2 separate regions of the Homo sapiens genome follow, and region 1 is linked to region 2. Evidence: fine-mapped expression QTL. A gene starts in region 2. The other region holds a variant in brackets. All regions are shown on one strand. Distances are from middle to middle.

The links. PIP is the estimated chance that this variant, and not a neighbour inherited with it, causes the effect.
Region 1: its variant is fine-mapped to the expression of DISP1 in tibial artery (GTEx, PIP above 0.99).

What each region holds. Positions count from the first base shown.
Region 1 is chr1:222,838,989-222,849,053 of GRCh38, forward strand. All of the region lies in intron 1 of DISP1 (dispatched RND transporter family member 1), which reads left to right. Among named protein-coding and RNA genes, the nearest start is that of DISP1, 29 kb to the left of the region's middle. The variant T/A (reference allele first, on the strand shown) is at 5,716.
Region 2 is chr1:222,808,964-222,819,028 of GRCh38, forward strand. DISP1 (dispatched RND transporter family member 1) reads left to right here and starts at 6,076. Exons shown (of 9, transcript NM_001377229.1): 1 at 6,076-6,115. RefSeq lists an enhancer at 5,467-5,526 and silencers at 5,767-5,846, 5,937-6,036.

The DNA.
Region 1 (10,065 bases), 30 kb after region 2:
GCTAATACTAAAAATCTTGGGAACTCTGTGTGCATGGGTTTCACTCTAGGGCTGTTAGTTGAAGATCAGATTTATTTTATTGAGACATTGCTGACTCTTAATATCTATAGCAGGGGTCCCCAACTCCCAGGTTGTAGACGGGTAACACTGTGTGGCCTGTTAGGAACTGGGCCGCACAGCAGAAGGTAAGTGGCAGGCCTGAGCTGTGCCTCCTGTCAGATCAGCAGCAGCATTAGATTCTCATAGGAGTGTGAACTCTATTGTGAACTGTGCATACAAGGCATCTAGGTTGCATGCTTCTTATGAGAATCTAATGCCCGATGATCTGAGGTGGAACAGTTTCCTACCGAAACCATCACCCCTGCCCACGTTGTCTGTGGAAAAATTGTTTTCCATGAAATTGGTTCCTGGTGCCAAAAAGATTAGGCACCACTTATCTATAGCCTTTTCTCTTGGGCTGATGTCTCTTTCCAAAGAAGAGTCTTTCTCCTGCCTGGGAGGTACAAGTTGCTACTAGTTTCTGACAGTTAAACAAAGGAAGAGAACTGAGAGGTAGGGAGTGATCTCACTGCTTAGTACAGAGATGCTCTTTAATTTACAGTAGCATTATATCCTGATGAACCCATTGGAAGTTGAGAATATCATAAGTCAAAAATGCATTTAGAGCCAGGCATGGTGGCTCATACCTGTAATCTCAGCACTTTGGGAGGCTGAGGCGGGTGGATCATGAGGTCAAGAGATCAAGACCATCCTGGCCAACATGGTGAAACCCTGTCTCTACTAAAATACAAAAAATTAGCTGGGCATGGTGGCATGCGCCTGTAGTCCCAGGTACTCGGGAGGCTGAGGCAGGGGAATTGCTTGAACCCAGGAGGCGGAGGTTGCAGTGAGCTGAGATTGTGCCACTGCACTCTAGCCTGGGTAACAGAGCAAGACTGTCTCAAAAAAAAAAAAATGCATTTAGTACACCTAGCTTAATGAAGCCTAATCTAGCCTGTCTTAAATGTGCTCAGAACACTTACATTAGCCTACAATTAGGCAAAAATCAACTAACAGCCTGTTTTATAATAAAGAGTTGAATACTTTATGTAATTTATGAAAACTGTACTGAAAATAAAAACCAGAATGGTCATATGGGTACCAAAAGTATGGTTTCTACTGAATGCATATTCTTTTCCCACCATGGTAAAGTCGAACTATTATAAATCAGGGACCACTGTATAAATTTAATCTCCCTGTTTTTGGTACAGTATCTTGGTTTTTTTGTTTTTTAGACCGAGTCTCACTCTGTCACCCAGGCTGGAGTGCAGTGGCATGATCTCGGCTTACTGCAACTTTTGCCTCCCAGGTTCAAGCAATTCTTGTGCCTTAGCCTCCCAAGTAGCTGGGATTATAGGCGCCCATCACCATGCCTGGCTAATTTTTGTATTTTTAGTAGAGATGGAGTTTCAGCATGTTGGCCAGGCTGGTTCTTGAACTCCTGACCCCAAGTGATCCACCCACTGAGCCTCCCAAAGTACTAGGATTACAGGCGTGAGCCACCATGCCTGGCCATTAGTACAGTATCTCTTTTTTTTTTTTTTTTTTTTCCCTGAGACAGTTTTGCTCTTGTTGCCTAGGCTGGAGTGCAGTGGTGCTATCTCGGCTCACCACAACCTCTGCCTCCTGGGTTCAAGTGATTCTCCTGCCTCAGCCTCCCGAGTAGCTGGGACTACAGGTGCCCGCCACCACACCCGGCTAATTTTTTGTATTTTTAGTAGAGATGGGGTTTCACAGTGTTAGCTAGGATGGTCTCAATCTCCTGACCTTGTGATCCGCCCACCTCGGCCTCCCAAAGTGCTGGGATTACAGGTGTGAGCCACTGCGCCCAGCCAGAAGGGTTCTTAAAAAAATAAAAATAATTACAAAACCCCAATTTGTGCATAGTTATACCATTTAGTTAAATACTATATGTACACAACTTACTGTCATCAAATTATTATTATAATAAATGCAAAGGTGAGTAGAGCACCTGATTAATCTTGGACACAGATTTTGTCTTATTTATCATTGTGATTCCATTACATAGCACAGTGCCAGACATATAAAATGCTATTAATAATATGTTTGAAAGAATGAATTAATGACTAAATCAGTGTGTATATGCTAATTAGTGTAGTACATACCTTTTTCATCTGTAAATTTTTCTTTTGTTAGCATATTTTATTTTCTTTCTCTACATATTTGACTCCTTCCTTTTAAAAGCTTATTATACATTATTTTAAGTAGTTTTATTTTTTAGTAGGATCTCATAACACTAAACAAACCTGTATTTGTCAAACATTTATGCATTGTTTACTGTGTGCCTGGTGCTGTTCTTAAACCATTTAATCCTCATTAATAACCCTATAAGGTGGTTACTGCTAATATTCCATTTACAAGAGGAAACTGAGGCACAGAGAAGTTAGGTACTCACTCAAGGTTATCCTGCTAGTAAGTGTCAGAGCTGGACTTCTTGAACTCATGTCTGGGTTCCAAAGTTTATGTGTTTAACCACTACGCTAGACAGACTCCTATTTTTAAAAAGTACCAGCTCTAAAAATTATTTCCATCTCCAGAAGACTGCCCTTACTAGTGGGGCTTTTGTTATTTATAGTAAATTTTATTAAAATAGAAATTTTCAAATGGTAATATTCACTGTACTTGTCTTTTATCATCAAGCTATTTAATGAGTATACTGTTTTATTTTTAAAAGTGATATTTATTATAAGCATATTTGATGTCTGTGTGCTAATAATTATATGGATAAAATATTGATATTGGTAAAATTTGGCATTATTTCAAAATGTGATGGAATATGTATGTGTGACTGTTGGAGTGCTTTACTTTCTGTTGGTATTGGTAAAGTATTCTTTCTGGCTGAAGCATCTCTGAAATATCAGAGGAAAAATGGGAGGTGGGATCCAGAGGGATTGGAATTTTAGACATCTTTCAATTATTTTTGTCATTTGTGATAAGTACCTAATGAATTTTGAACCTAGTAATGCCCTTATGTGCTAACTATTTTGGTACCTGAGGAACTGGAGTGTTTCTGTTCCTTACCTTGTTTAGTGGTCTAGGAAAGAGGTCTGAAGATTCAAACTCTAGTCTAGTTTAAGTTTGTGTTTGATAGTTTACAAATCAAGGTGCTTAAATTCACACTTTATTTACTGCTATATGCAGCTCTTTTTTAAAGCCTTTTGTGATATTTTTTGGTATTTTGATTGTTTAAAGCCCTCAGGTAGCCTAATTAAAAATGGGATGTCCAAATTCACGGAGGCATCTGTTAAATAAAACCTGTCATTTTAAAAAAAAAAAAAAGGAATTGTCTGTTTTATTCTATAGCCACAGCAGAAGGGTTAAATATGGACAGAACACTATTTGTCCTTTTAGGTATTACTGTTTTAGAAGGAGATTATAGCTATACTTTCTTTTTTATGCCTTCCCTCTTTCCCTAGATAATTAGTACTTTTATAAATATAGTGTCTGGCAGAAATTGCTTTATATTAAATATCAAAAACAGCAATCAATAGTGACAGCGATCCATGTATATTAGTATTTTCCAAAGTATGTTCCATGGGAGATGGCTTGCTGGAATATGGTTTTATAATCATAAACTGAGGAACAATTGCATAAATACTGCCCCTCCCAACATACAAACATGCATCTGTTAACACACAGGCTTTGGAGAGTCACAGTATACATTAATTTATTAATGGTACTAAGAAGTCCTGTGGTAATAAAAATGGATTTAATTTTGTTTAGCTCAACATTTCCCACATTGTTTGACCTCAGAACCTTTTCTTTCCTAATCTTATGGTTGTCTGATGCACTTTATGCTCCACAGATGACTCTTTGGGATATAATGCTATATTCTGTGACAGTGTAACAGTAGATCTATTATTTTGATGAGGTTTCAGAATAGTAGCCCATCAAAAATATGCCATTATTAGTTCATTCGTAGTTAATAAATGGATTTTAGGAATGGCATTTAAAAATTATTAGAAATTTGAGGTGGAATGCATCTTCCTTGAATTTATATAACATTGGACCTTGCTTTTATAGACACATTACTTACCGAGGACTTTAATCTCTCACTTGATATATAATGAGAGAATGGTAAACCTCATTAATTTTGACTAATCGGGGAAGCTAGGCAAATCCAAGATAGTATTAAAAAAAACAGAATAGTTTTAAGAAATGCAGTGTTATCACTGCAAATACTGTGTCTAAAATTATGCCAACATAGAAGATTCTGGGTGGAAATCCTTTAAAGAATAAATAACAGTGACTTGTAATTAGTTCAGTTGCAAATATATATGTACTTCTGAAATAAGTGACATTATTTAAAATATTTTTTTCAAAAGTTTTAGCTTTTATTACATGTATCTTATTTACACTGTTTGCTTGCTAAACCATTTCTTTATAGAGTAGTCTGTTTCAAATTTCTAGTATGGTATGGCTCGTAAAAATTTACTGAGTGATCTATATCCTAATTGAGAATATGGAATGAAACATGGAAATAAGGCAGGGGAGAGACCTTCTCTAATGAAGGATGGGGGGGGGAAATTTCTTTTGAGCAGTGATAAAAATAGCAAACAAGAACAAACATTTGACTATTATTGCTGAAAGGAGTGATTAATAATTAACTAAAAGGAAAAGCATCTGCTTCTTGAGTTCTGTAAAAGTCCAGATTGAAGGCCAAGAAGTATTAAATCACAATAGCAATCAAAAGACAAGAAAGAAAAATGAAAACATGGTGGAAGAGAAAGATGAAATTGTAGCAACCAGGATGGTTAGTTATTGGGGAGGCCCCAAACAGATAACATTCCACAGGAGAGTCAGCATTAAAAGACGCAAAAGCCCCAGAAAAAGTAGATAAATCATGTCACTCTTGTTTTTACGCTGAAGATATAGATATATTATACCCCTGTTGAAGTGTGGTGCTGGGGCTAGGAAAGGCACCCATGGAATTACGATAGTCCTTAAAGTACTACCTTTTTACATGCTAAGTGTTTATCTCTAGAATGTATCCAGAGTATTCTCCAGTCTTTGTATTTTTAAAACAGCATTTACACATTTGTTTCCTAAAATCTCATCATATCAGTTGTTTTTATCAGGCTTTAATAGACCTGATGTGTTGAGGTTCCCTCAATTCCCTTTTTGCTTCCTTTGTTTCTTTTTATTCCTTTGTGATGTAAGACAGCATAGTAGCATCACCTCATTTTATAGGAATGGGGAAATCAGGTTGAAGATTAAGTGGCTTGTGTACGGAGTGAAAGGAAGGAGGCTTTCAAGTGTAGCTTAGAAAACAGGAGTTTAGTATTTTTATAGGGAAAGAATATGATGGCTAATTTAGCAGGTTTTCTGAATTAAACTTATGCTTGATTGTACGCTTAAGTATTAAATCTTTCAAGTATTATCTATATCAGTACTGACTAATCTGCCTTCAGTTATATAATGGATAGCCGATCCAGCCTTTCCTTTTAAGAAAATCCTTGATGTATTAGACCGTTAAAACAAATTCTAACATTTGGTGTTCATTAGTGTTGTAACTGAAACAAAAACATTTTAATGGTTAATCCCAGAGTATTTTGAAGTTAGTGTAAATTTGCAGGAAAGGTATTTAAGCTTTAGTATCAATTGCAAATAGGCCATGAGCCAATTTTCAAAGCTGTTTCTTAGTGAGACATTGAG[T/A]TTTTCTCAATACAAAAAATGCGTTATGCAGCATTGTGCCATGTGACAAGGAAACAGAATGGAACAATTACAATGAGATTTGTATTGATAATTGTATTTCTGTGTGAGTCGTTTAAGATACTGGGAAGCAAAGTGAGATTTAGAATAACCCCCCAGCAACTTCAACAATTGCTTACATTTAGTTGTAGACCACGAAAGAGGTATTTTTAATATAAAAGGATGGGTATTGCTGGGCAACAATTAAAACTTCAAACTCAACATTTAGGGTTTAGCCAACTGACTTTACTAAAATGGAATGCTTTAACTTTTTGACTCTATATTTCAGGAAAATTGCTCATTGTAGTTTATTAAGGTAAAATGACTTTTTGTGATGTAGTGCTAAAAAGGTCAAATCTCCACTTAAAATATTAGGTTGGTGCAAACGCAGTTGCAGTTTTTGCCATTGCTAGCTTTTGGTAGTGCTAAAGAGTTTTGCAAAAATGATTTTTCTTTTAAAGAATATTTAAATTAATTTACTTTGCTTTTGGTAAATGCCAAAGAAAGGCACAGTGAAGTATTGTAAGTGCATTCAAAATCGATTCTTCATCCGTTCATTTGTCATCCTAAAGTGAAAAAAAGAAGTGGAAGACAATTATTAGATGGATAGTAAATATAATCTAATGATTTATATGTTGTTCTGACATTTAACCATAGATACTGTTGCTTAAAAGGACTCTTGAAAGAAAATCTCAGCATATTTTTTATTCAAAGTTGTTTTGACTTAGGTACTTTTTCCATGTAAGAGACAAAAATCCCACAAATATTAAATCTATTTCAACAAGTGTTTTTGAAACATTATGTAGATTTGCAATGCAGTTTCATTAGCACAATAAATATTTCTTAATGCTGTGCTTTTTGAGTTTCTGGATTTTTGAACAATATGTTTAGGTCATTTTGAATTATTATTTACTTAATATTATTTATTATGACTGTGAACTGATTTGTTTATGTGTATGTATTTGTGTGTTTTGGCTCTATCTGTATCTCAACAAGACCATTTAATGTCAGCTCTATCACAAGATAATTTACTTTTTTCCCCTCTATGATATATAACTTTTGGGATAGAAATTTGTTTTGGGGTGTAATTTTTGGAAATGTACTAGCCACTTGACATGCTTTAATATTCAAAATAATTCACAGTGAATCTGGATTTTTAGTGACTAGTCAATGTCCTTGGTAGACATTTTTGTTTTGATTGATGAAGTTCATTTTACCAGTTATTTTTACAAGGCTTCTGCTTTTTGTATGCTGTCTAAAACAATCTTTGCCTAACCTAAGGTCTTGAAGATTTATTTCTAGATTTTCTTCTAGAAATTTTATAGTTTTTGGCTTTTTCATTTAGGTCTATAATGCATTTTGAGTTAATTTTTATGTATGTTGACTATGGATTTTTTTCTGTTTTGAAAATGTTTGCACAGAGAGACAACTTTAGTGACAGTGTGGAGGTTGCAATGAAAAGAGTGAAAAGGCCAGATGTGGTGGATCATGCCTGTAATCCCAGCACTTTGGGAGGCCAAGGCGGGCGGATCACCTGAGGTCAGGAGTTCGAGACCAGCCTGGCCAACACGGCAAAACCCCGTCTCTACTAAAAATACAAAATTAGCTGGGTGTGGTGGCGCATGCCTGTAATCCCAGGTACTCGGGAGGCTGAGGCAGGAGAATCGCTTGAACCCGGGAGGCAGAGGTTGTGGTGAGCTGAGATTGTGCCATTGCACTCCAGCCTGGGCAACAAGAGTGAAACTCTGTCTCAAAAAAAAAAAGAGTGAAAGGACAGGGAATATGAGTTGATAATGACTAGAACTAGGATAGCAGTTCTGCATATCAAAAAAGCAGGGAAGAGGAGAAATCTGATGACATTTTAGAGACAATGAATTGGATGGGGAGTGAGCATGGAGGCAGAAGTAAAGATGCATCTAAGGCTTGTGGTTGCAGGAAGTAGAATGGCCTGTGGCCAAAACTAGAATATAGGACAAAGGGAAGTTTTATGATTCTCCATTGTGATGAATGGAGAAGAGTTCTGTTTTCAAACTGTTGAGTTTATGTGATAGCAGGACATTCTGTCCTTGTCCACATGTATACATGTTGAGGAATAGTCAGATTCTTAGTGAAAACATTTTTTGTTTAATTCACTGCGACTAATTTTTTATGTTATTGCATAGTTTCCGTTGTGATAATTTTTGTAGCTTCTCAACAGTATTTAAATTTTGTTGTGAAACTATTATATCTATTATATAAAATGATTAAAAAAATAATGCCACTAAATAGATTTCTACTGTATTTCCCTCCTCTGTTTCCAATACAACTTGACCATTAATAAGGATATTCTGTCGGTGTTTGTCTAGATATGCAGACATCTCATATCATTCTTTCCACAGAGGTAAAACTGTATTATCCTTATTTATTTTGATGCTCATATTATCCCAGGCATGGCCAGTGGAAATGACATACGTTAAGCTAACTATTGTGTCCTTTTGACATGTCCTCATAGTTATTTGAGAACTTTCTTAAATTCTGTCATAATAAGATATTCTAGGCTCATCTTATACTTTCCCTGTTCTAGTCCTGTACTCAGCCATTTCATTCAAGGGTCCTGGTTATTTTTAGTGGAGAATGGTATTTAGAAACAAAGATCTGAACACTGGGTGTGCTCATTGCTATGAACACATCATTTCTTTTAGGTTTTGTCAGTGGAGAGAGCTTATAAGTTGTATTTACACATATAAAAATGTGTATGTGCATATACACACAGGAATATAGATAGTACACATATATCCATATTTATTTTCTATATCAAACCATCTTTATAAATAACTATAAGTTTACACCTATACCTCCAATTCCAATCCAATCCAATAGATTATTTTTTTTTCTGGCCTTTTCCCTTTCCTTGTTTGCAATTCCCTCCTCTTGCAGTGGAAACCTGGATTCTATTAAGTCAATATATTTTGCTCCAAGACACACCAACCCCCACCCCCAATAGCCATGTGCAACCCAGGGGGAAGGGAGAAGGATAAAAGGGAAGGGAGAAGGAAGAAAGTTCCTCCCAGTGAATTTTTTTTTGAATTAGCCCAATGGTTAAAAATAATAGAAGAAAGGAAGGAGCCATGTAGAATTTTAAACTTGTGACTAGTCAGTTTTGTCCATCTTTCTCTTTTTTAATGGCTTTTGGCTTTTATGTCACAAATAAAGGTTATGAAAATAAACTTCATAGTACTTTTTATGCCTTTTTTTTTCTTGGTTTCTGTGAACCTATTGGTTTTTTTACATTTTAATTTTCAGTACACCTGAGATTTTTTGGGGGGAATATTTTAGGATCTAATTATATTTTATTTTTCTGAATGGATAACTAGTTATTTCAACATTCATATTGATTGATTTATCTTTTCTCCATTGATTTGAAATGCCATCTCCATTGTATCCTGTTCTACATTGTTCTTTTACTATATTCTTCTGTTCTTTTTATCTGTTTGTTTTTTAAATTGCATGCCCGATAGTGGGACACTGTAGTATTTATCGCCTAGAGTGATTGTGAGCATTAAATGAGAATGCACATAAAATGGTCAGTGTGGTGCCAGTCGTGTAGTATAAAATGGTCAACACGTATTAGCGACTATTAGCATCTCAATATAAAAGGAATAAACTTTACAAACAATAGGAGAGTAAATTACAAAAAAAGTAAAAATTATAGTAAGTAGTGGCTTTTTAAAAAAAATAAAAACTTGTAGGATTCTTAATTTTTATACTTTGTGTATGGAATGGCAAAAGTTCATATTCTTTATATACAGATAAATTATGTGTAAAAATGTGTCCAATATTAGATAAAGTTAAGCTATTTAGACTTACAGATGTCCTGGATTGCAGGCTCTTTGAGGGCAGAGACTGTGTCTTATTTCATTTAACAAATACCTGTGCAGCACCTCACTGTGCCAGGGTTTGAGCATAGAATAGGATATAATATCTACCGTGAGCAGCTCACAGGCTAGTTGGGGAAACAGACATATAAATAAATAAATATAAATAACATGCAGGGGCTAATATATGTATAGCAGTGTACTTAGTTGTCTTCCATTAATGTGGAAATATTTATATCAGAGCTCTACACATTCACTGAGGCATTTTTCTAAATATGGGGATGGGATGAGAATACTTAAATAGTATTTCTATGCTGACTTCCCATGAACTATGTCCCAAAGTGCTTGATTGTACCTCACCATATCTTTATATAATACCACAAAGAAGGCAAAAAGTCACATTTTTGGAGTGTGTCTTTTGTATTTTCTGCTTTTAATATGTATTCCATGTGTAGTCCTC
Region 2 (10,065 bases):
CCTCAGCCCCCCGAGTAGCTGGGATTAAAGGCACACACCACCACACCCAGCTAATTTTTGTATTTTTAGTAGAGACAGGGTTTCACCAGGTTGGCCAGGATGGTCTCCATCTCCTGATCTTGTGATCTGCCCACTTTAGCCTCCCAAAGTGCTGAGATTACAGGCGTGAGCCACCACACCTGGCCCACTTTCTGTTTAATTCTTAATACTCATCCCAGACCTTTGGTCTTGCTTCTGTTTTTTATTACGAAATAATAAAAGTATACAATGCTAGATAGTTATATAGTATATTGACAGTCCAATGTTCTTTTCACACTTTTGATGGGGTTAGGGGAATTGCATTAATTATATTTAAGGAAACTTTCCTTTAGAAATATTTAAAGAAACTTACTTGTGTGTAAGCAGGGTTTGGCCAGGTTGAGCAAATAAAAATGCAGGACACCCAGTTAAATATAATTTCAGATAAGCAATGAGAAATTTCTTACCATAAGTATATCCTGTGTGATATTGGGGACACACTTATGCTACAAAATAATCTGAAATTCGAATTTAACTGAGTATCGTATATTTTAGTATATTTTATCTTGCAACTCTATGTGCAGGGCATTTTTTCTGGGCAGTGAGTATTTGCAATGCAGAGAAGGTCCCTCTCAGGACAAAAATTCAGAGGAATCAGAAATAACCTGCTGGCCAGGCGTGGTGGCTCAGGCCTATAATCCTGCTATAATGCTAGCACTTTGGGAGGCCGAGGTGGGTGGATCACCTGAGGTCAGGAGTTTGAGACCAGCCTGGCTAACATGGTGAAACCCCGTCTCTACTAAAAATACAAAAATTAGCCAGGCGTGGTGGCGGGCACCTGTAATCCCAGCTACTCGGGAGGCAGAGGCAGGAGAATTGCTTGAACCCCGGGGGTGGAGGTTGCAGTGAGCTGAGATCATGCCACTTCACTCCAGCCTGGGTGACAAAGTGAGACTCCGTCTCAAAAAAAAAAAAAAAAAAAAAGAAAAGAAATAACCTGCTATGGTTCTACCATGTCTACTCAAGGCAACTATAATCAACCTGTGCTTTATTGTTTGATTTTAAAAGTTTTTAAGAGAATGCTAAAAATAAAAGAAGTGACTTCTCACTAACTAGAGAAGTAGAGAAGGTGTAGCCCCCTTTAAGGCATGAATCCATTGTTTCTACAGGAAAAGTTTTGCCTCAATATTCCCAGCCTGTAGTTAATTCTGTTTTAGGAAATATGTTTCTTATCACTGAGACACAGAACTGAAAATTCATTCTGTTACTTACCTACTGGTGAGATTTCCAAGTTAGGATTAGAGCTGCGGGTCTATTTTAGTTACCAACCATGGAGTGAAATTTTTACTGAAAAACAAAGGCTTGTTTTATTAGTCGCTGTGGAATTTAGCAGGTGAAGCTTTCTCTGGCGGCAGTATCTCTGCTTAGTTTTGATTTTCCTGGGAGGAAAATGAAGTGAGGCTTGTGCACCAATCAAACACGTGGAATGCCCATTGCTTTTGCAGAGAAACAAGCAGGATTGGAGTTCAAAAGTATTAACTTGAATAAAAATCCTTAGGAACACATCCACCCAGATTTTTAGTTAATGAGTATCATGCCAAGTCTCCCTGTTATGTTTCTTTTACACATGGAATTTCCATTGGTTTAGCTCTTAAAGAGGTCTGAAGCAGAACGGCATCCCTGTGGAAATCACATGTTTTATTTGGATTCCACAGGAGAAAAGAGCTGAAAAGGGCAAAATATTATTTCTATTAGAAATGTATTTACTTCAAGAAGATATGAATCAGTGCTAAAAATGTTTTTGCAGGATATACAAACATAAAATTACATCAAAACACTGAGGGGAGAAGGAAATGGAGAATTATTGTTTAATGGATACAAAGTATCATTTTTGGGAAGATGAAAAATTTCTGGGCTGGGTGCGGGGGCTCATGCCTGTAATCCCAACAGTTTGGGAGGCTGAGGCAAGAGGATCGCTTGACCCCAGGAGATCGAGACTAGCCTGGGCAACATAAGAAGACCCCCATCTCTTAAAAAAAAATACAAAAATTAGCCAAACATGGTGTTGCATGCCTGTAGTCCCAGCTACTCAGGAGGCTGAGGTCAAAGGACGGCTTGAGCCCAGGAGATAGAGACTGCAGTAAGCCCAGATTGCAGCACTGCACTCCAGCCTGGACAACAGTGCCAAATTTCTGGAGATGATGACGGTGAGTAATATTTGCACATCATTAGGAAGGAAATGGCACTTTAAATTTAGTAATTAATTTTTCACTTTATGTAAGAGATGTTAAGATCTTCATAGAAAATATCTGGCCTTTAATAAGCTGCAGAAGAGTTAGGAATTATTAATTGGAGATCCCTGGCTGACCTTATTTATCACTCATTTCATAATCTGTAATTAATGCAAGTTTGGTGTTGTGATTGCTTCCAAGTGTAGACTAGTTGATTTTGCCACAAATTTCTAAATTACTGGATTTAGTAGTAATTTAGTAAATTGCCACTAAATTACAAAGGGACGAGGATATAGTTTTAGACATAACTGCAAATATATCGATGTTTATGTTGGTGGTAAAAAAAAAAAGTAAGGAAACGACATATACCCATGTATGAACTAAAGAGAATGTAGAATGTGTAAATAAACTTTATGAATAACTAACCTTATTAGCTCTGTTAATTAACCCATCTACCTGTTTGAGCCAGTTGGCGAGTACGGAAAAAAAAAGTAGGAAAATTTTCCTTAAAATTTTCTCTCCTGATTCAGATTAACATATTCACTATCTACTGTCACCCACAAATGGCTTTTGAACAGCTCTCACAGTTCCGCAGTCAGGCTGATGCCATTATACAGATGTGGGTAAACTCCAAAGATCAGGAGCTGAGTGGGAGGAGACTGAATAGTGCACTTTCAAGGATTTCACAGTAGTTTCCTCAGTTGTTGAGAGACGAGATTGTTAGCTAATCCTGTCTCTGGGACTACTGAACTATTTAGCCTTAGGAAAACCACTATGCCTAGCTGGAAGGGCATTAGTTCCTTCCTCTGTTGACATGCATGGTTTCCAAAGTCTCCTTCCACTTTACACTCTGATTGCATGATTCTCCCCACCTGTGTGATTTTAATAGTTAAAGTCATCTAACCCATGGTAATTGTGACAGTTTTCCTGAATGGACCAGGCAGCCATGGAGGTGTGCAAATCCTTCTCCTGTTCTTGAGTCTGAGGAGAGAAAGTGGCTCCAGAACTCTGGTGCATGCTATAGAATGAGTGGGCAACCTTGTGTCTTGTGAATTGATGTCTTGGGGTTTGATTGCTAGGAGGGGAAACCTACTAAAATGATTCTTAACCAAATGGGGGGTTTACTGGAAGGACACGGAATTTTCGTAGAACTTAAGGGCAGAACATTTAGCTGGATCTCATAAGGGACTGGGGAATCAGAAACTGAAAAGAAGGGAACTAAGATGTTCACCTCTCAGATAAGTCTTCTCTTTTTCCATCTTTCTCTCCTTATCCTTATTTCCTTCTCATCATTCCTGTTGCTTTCCCCCTTTTCCCATCAGTTTTGAACATCTTACTCATGCCTAACCTAATTCTAGGTTTGGACATTTCTAATTTAGCATGCAAGAGTGGAGCCCTATATGTGCATTGCAAAATCCATGCATGTGAGACTTTCTAGGCCTGTTTGAGTTCAGTGTTCATATTTGGTCTGGTTTGCTGTGGCAATGAGTATGGTTCGTTCAGCTCAGTGCCCATTCAGAAGAGACTCTTGGAGCACATTATCTTAAACAAGGATTGGAAATGAATATGCTCCTTAAGATTATTTTGGTTGCAAGCAGCAGCAATCTTCTTTGACTAGCCAAAAAAAAAAAAGTTTTGGAATTATACAGGGATATCTCCTATAACCAAAGGAAACAGGGCAGGTCCTGGATCTTTGGCAAAGGGTGTTAATAGATTTTTTCTTTAGGGAACTGCCATTTGTGACTCAGTTCTACTGAGTAACTATATTCTCTCTGTGTTTCTCTATGCCTCATTTAAGATTTCTGGGGCAAAGAGTCTAAATGGTCTGGTTTAGGATATGCCCACCTCTGAATTAATCTGTTATGTAGACAAGGGACATGGTAGCGCAACCAACTTGTCTCAGTTTTCGCAAAACTATCCCAGTTTAAGCACCGAAAGTCCAGCATCCTGGTATCCCCCTGTCTTTAGCAAACCAGAGTAGCTGGTCACACTAGGACATGGTCGCTTGTGCATATGTGGCCCATAAAAGGACTGCCTCTATGTATTTCAGCCATTCCTACAAAAAAAGGAATTGTGAGAAGCTATAAGGAAACATTTCACAGAGTGTCTATTACATTCTACTTCTTGGCACCCAGCGTGGGCACACACACACACACACACACACACACACACACCCCCCACATCACACCACATACACACTCTCTTCTTTCCATCCTTTCAAAAATACACCTTGCCGCTATGTGAATCAGTTATTTCAAGTATCACCACAAATGGACTACTAACCTTCCCAATGGGAGAAAACCCAAACGCGTGACCTTTTACTTCACTTAGAGTTGATGTTATGCCCTCTAAGTACAGACTTTCTACACGATATCCATTCCTCATTTTCTTCTACTGTAATCCTATCTCCATATATTGCAATGTATGGCCTTTTGCTGGCAAAAGGAGAAAAAAAGAAAAATGTATGTATTATACCATTCCTTTTTAAAAAGGCAAAGAAAGGGCTTGGTGTGCAAGAGAGTATTTATTAAACACTGGTAGCAAAGAAAACAAACAAAAAATGCAACAGTCCTCATTACTGTAGCTGGTGTTGAAGCTTCTTTCTTCTGGGCCCATTCCATAGTTCCCTGTGACTTCAGTTAGCATCTCAGTTGGTTGGGGTGATTTGCTCAATGCAGCAACCTGAGGGGTATGATCCCTTGTGGTCCTGCCTTTATAGGGTTGTGGTAGCCGTCTATTGCCTTTACATCTGGGTATGGCAGTTCAAGAAAGCACCCTCAAGGATAAAACATGCTATTCATGATGTATTATTTTTCTTTGATGACTAGGACAATCCCCCTAGTCAACCCCATGACTCACTGTTTTGTCTATTCCCTTAGATGACCCCACGGATTCCGTTGCACGGAGTCTCTGAAGTCCAAAATTTTTAAGCATAGGGCACAACGTTCTTCATGATTTGGCCTTGTCTCTTCTCATTATGCTTGCTCTTGCATCTGCCATCTGACACTTTGCTTAACTCCTGGCCAGCTACCGGTACAAGCCAAGCTCTCACTCCATAACGTCCTTCTTCTCTGCATGCCCTTCTCCACTGTGCCTGTCCTTTAACTCTTATTCATCATTTATTTCAGTCTCAATTGAAGAGTCATTATTTCTAGAAAGCCTTCTCCGCCCAGCTCTCTACATTGCACCGTTCCCTACAGCACCACCAGAGTGCCTCTAACACTTGATGGTTTCATTGCTTATATATTTTTGTTTCTGTGCATAAGCCTCCCGAGGGAGCCGCCGCTGTTCGATTTATTCTATAGCTAGTTCCTCGCCCTGAGTGTAAGCCTCACGAGAGTGGGGCTGTCCTCTGTTCGCTCTATCCCCAGCCCCTACAGCAGTGCCTGGTTGTTCACAGGCCTATATAGCAGGTGATAATAATCTGAATAATGAAAGAAGAAACACTGTCTTGTGGCGTGATTTACTTCTGTTTTTACTTATGTCAACTTTTAACTAGATTGTGAGGACAGAGGTCAGTGTCTGAGTCATCTTGTGCCTCACTGGGCTTGGGCAGAATAGACGCTTGGTCAAGCATTTGCACACTGGTCGATGGATACACTAGAAAGAGCAGGAGCGCGAGAGGGAATTTTTTTGGCGCCTGCCTCGCCCTTTCAAGCCAAGCCCCTCTGCCCTCTGCCCCTTGCCAGCCGCCCGTCGCCCGCCGCCGGCGATCCCTCTCCCGGGGAGCGGTAGTCAAGCGAGGCCAGCGGGCCGGGAGCGGGCCGGGAGCGGGCGAGGGGCGGGACTTCCGGTCCCGCTCGCGACGCGGACCGCGCCAGGCGGAAGCCCGGCTCCGGGCCAGCATCCGAGAGCCCGGACTGGAGGTGAGTTCGCAGCCGGAACGTTGCAGGCACTTGTTTCCTCAGTGGATGCCTTTCGGCGCGCCGCCGCCCGGCGCCGCGGGACTGGGAGACCGGGTAGGGACGGGAGAGTCGGCATCTCCCGCGCGTGTGGAGGGAAATCCGGGACCCCAGGCTTGAGAGAAGGGCCAGGACTGAGAACGGGGAACCAGGAGAGCCCTAAGGGCAGCCTTTAGGGACTGAGGAGGGAGGCACCGGGGACCCTGAGGCCAAAGAGGCCCTGAGACTGGAGGTTGCGGATGACACGGGGCAGAGTTGCATCTCGGAGGAAAGTAGTCATTCGTGGGGGCGTGTCCCGGGTCCTGGCGGATTGACTGAGAGGATGGCAGGAGATGGCAAAGGTTGGCTTCCAGGGAGAGGTTACAGAGGAGGGAGTCAGTCCTTCTCTGAGGGTCGTAGGTGAGAAGGACGTCTTGACCTAACGAACCAGAAAGATGACCAGCCACCTATTGGATGCTGAACTCCTATTGCTTCATTTGCAATTCATGCAGTTTGTTTTTTGTTTTTAGAAATATATCCCGCTCCGCGCGTGTGGATTTCGGGAAAATATTGTATATTCCTAGGGACCGCTCGAATTCTTGCTTCACCCAGATTCTGCGTGTCTTTGTCAAACTGATAGTAGTTGAGAGTTCTCTTCACCCAAGGAAGACAACCAAAGTTTTCCTTTTGGACTCTTCTCTACCCTGCAGAGTTTAGCTTGTCTTATTTCCCTTGTCATGGGATGAACTAAATGCGTTCAGAATTATGGTGATAATCACATGGAAAGCCAGTGCTGTCAATGTTTGCAGTTTCAACTCATTGTTTTTCTGTCCAACTTTCTAACACATTTTTTCTAAAAGCTATTTTGTTGGGTTTAGTCTTTTAGTTTAACCAATAAAGGCAATTTTACATCAGGGTGCAGCAAATTACTAGCAGTTCTTAAGATTTTACTGTTCCTTTTTATTTCTGCTGTAAGGAAATATATATATATATATATATATATATATATAAATATTTGCCATTGTCAGTGTTTTTTAAAAATATTGATAACCCAAGATCTGTTGTTACACGCACATTAGCACATTTAGTTTTCCCCAGTGGCCAGTGTTTGGTATGTGGGCTCATTATTATTACCAAAGGTAATTATTGATTTAGTTATTATTTACCTTGCATTTATGTTTTATTGGATGTGATTAATATGTGCTTCCTAATCTACATAATATAGTGTTTCACTCAGTGTAATTACAAAGATTCTCCTAGCTTTTAAGTAGGTAGTAAGTGAATTGGATTTTTGCCACAAAGTGAGCAAGGTAGCTAGGAAGAATCATAACACTGTCACTGATGGAGGGTGAGATCTGATGATTGCTTTGCTTGTTTCAGGTGTTTCACATTTCAAATGTTAGAAGTTTTTGTTTTAAAAATTACTGTATTAGTACAGGTAACTTTTAGATCTGATTTGGTGGTCTGACTTGAACTAATTCAGGAAAACTAGAACATTTTATATTTATTGGTACTGCGATATCTTGCTAGCTTATAAATTCTTGATGGCCTTGAATATCTGTGCTTGAGTGAAATACACAGTTATAACGTCCTTATGTTTAGGAGGACTGCTGATATTTACAAGTGTAAAGCAAGGCCTAAACATAAACAGTGCCTTAACATGTAAATGAGCATATTGAATAAGTTTTCAAATTACAAAATGAAGAGATAACACTGATCTCTAAAGTAATTGAATTAACTGCCATGTTAATTTCTGTATATGTCTCAATTTAATCTTATTTGTTTAAGTAGACAATATTGTTTATCTGATAAGACTTGATTTTATTTTTCTTCCGCCTTTTCCCATGGTTTTTGAGAAATAAAGCACTTGAGAAAGCATGCAAGTCTTTAGACATTAGTTCATGGTTGGAGGAAGTGCTCGTTGTTGAAACACAAGAGCACTTGCCCTCTTGGGCAAGTTGGGCTAGCTATATATATGAATGGTATGTTGAGGTTGGATTGCCCTGTATTCCGGAAAATCTTTGGAATTGTATTCTTTCTTCTAATTGTTTAGTAAATTTAGCTTTCTCTCTAGATAAATTATTTTTGTTATTCCGTAGGATTTAGATGTATTTTACAGTTTAACCAATAATGGCAGTTTTTGATTAAGTACAGCGAACTGCTGGCTATTTTATAGATTCACTATTTCTTTTTATTTCTGAAATATGTACAGTGTCTGTATTGGAAGAACTATCAAAATAGTGATAACCAAAACACTGTCTTCATATACACATACATTTGTCTTCCTTAATCTCTAGTTTGTAAAATACGAAATAATTTGCTAAGTTGAGCTCGTTGCTTCTATGCCCTTTGGTTATCAATTTTCTGATTATATAGTACGTTCTCAATTATCGGCATACTCTAGTTAGAAAGCCATTTCCTGCCACTTGATAGAATCAAGAATATTTGTTACAATGGGGAAGTACAGTTTTTGGATGAGGAGCTACGAAAGACTGCTGATCTGTTAACTTAAGGTCCAGCTGCTGCACTGCCTCTGATGAAAAGCATGGCCCTTAATGAGGTTGACTCACACAGGGTTGACTGCTTTTAGTAATACTTTCTGTCCTTTTCCTCTGGTGAGTTAGACCTTTTCTCCAATAGTGACCAAGATGACTTGGGCCTCAGAGTGACTCAAAAGGGGATGAATCACTGCAGTCCTGTTAGTAGGGCCCTGTCCATTCTGCTGAATCTGATCCCATAAATCTTGGCACATTTTCCAGCCTATAGGCATGTAGTTATGACTGTGAACCTCTTGTTTAGGTTATTGTTTTAAAAATACTTTTAATACTAAATCATAATTTGTTGGATTATATAAATAGACTCAGTTTTGCTTTGAGTGAGGCATCACATTACACTGTAGATGAACTTTTCTGTTAAAGTGATAGGCTATAACTCACAATGGCAAATATTGTAGAAAACACACTGATTGCCCTTAACCTTTGTTGTTATTATTAGTTTTGTTTTTAATTTTGAGAGCCTAAGGAATAGAAGAACTATTGGATAAATGATTTGCATGGGGGGGTGGGGGAAGTTGACCACTACCAGTGACATACTAGGGGTCTTGATGGTGGGAGCTGTCTGCTATAGTTGGAAAGAGTATTTTAGCACTGAGGTTTAGAATTGCCAGCTCCTGGTGATAATACAGCAGAAAGACTTTTAGTTGTTATTATAGTTTTTGAATACCACACAGATGATGCACTCCTTTGTTACCTGGAGAGGGCTGGGAGGGGAATCCCTCCCACCTCTTGTGTGAATGACCTGGTGGAGCCTCCCACCTCTTGTGTGAATGACCTGGTGGAGCCTCTTGAAGCAAAATAGTACCAGTTTGATTTTCACTGTGTTAGTGTATAATTATGGTTCTCCGGAGAAACAGACCAATATCACATATATATGTGTATTTTTAAAAGAGATTTATTTTAAGAAATTGGCTCATGCAGTTGTGGGAGTTGGCAAGTACAAAATTTGTAGGTCAGACCAGCAGGCTGGAAATTTAGGCAGGAGTTGATTCTGTAGTTTTGAGGCAGAATTCTTTCTTCTTTGGGAAACCTCAGGTTTTGCTCTTAAGGCCTTCAGCTGATTAGATGAGTCCTACCAACATTACGGAAGGTAATCTCCTTTACTTAAGGTCAACTGATTGTAGACATTAACTACATCTACAAAATATGTTTATAGCAACACCTAAATTGGTGTTTGATTAAATACCTGGGTGCTATAACCTAACCATGTTGACACATAAGGCTAACCATGACAGCATTTAAAATACTTTTGCTGTATTAAACTAATATGTGGCGTGTAAAATGTTGCATAGTCAATAGGAGAATATTGATATGGTTTGGCTCTGTGTCCCCACCCAAATCTCATGTCGAATTGTAATTCTCAGTGTTAGAGGTGGAGTC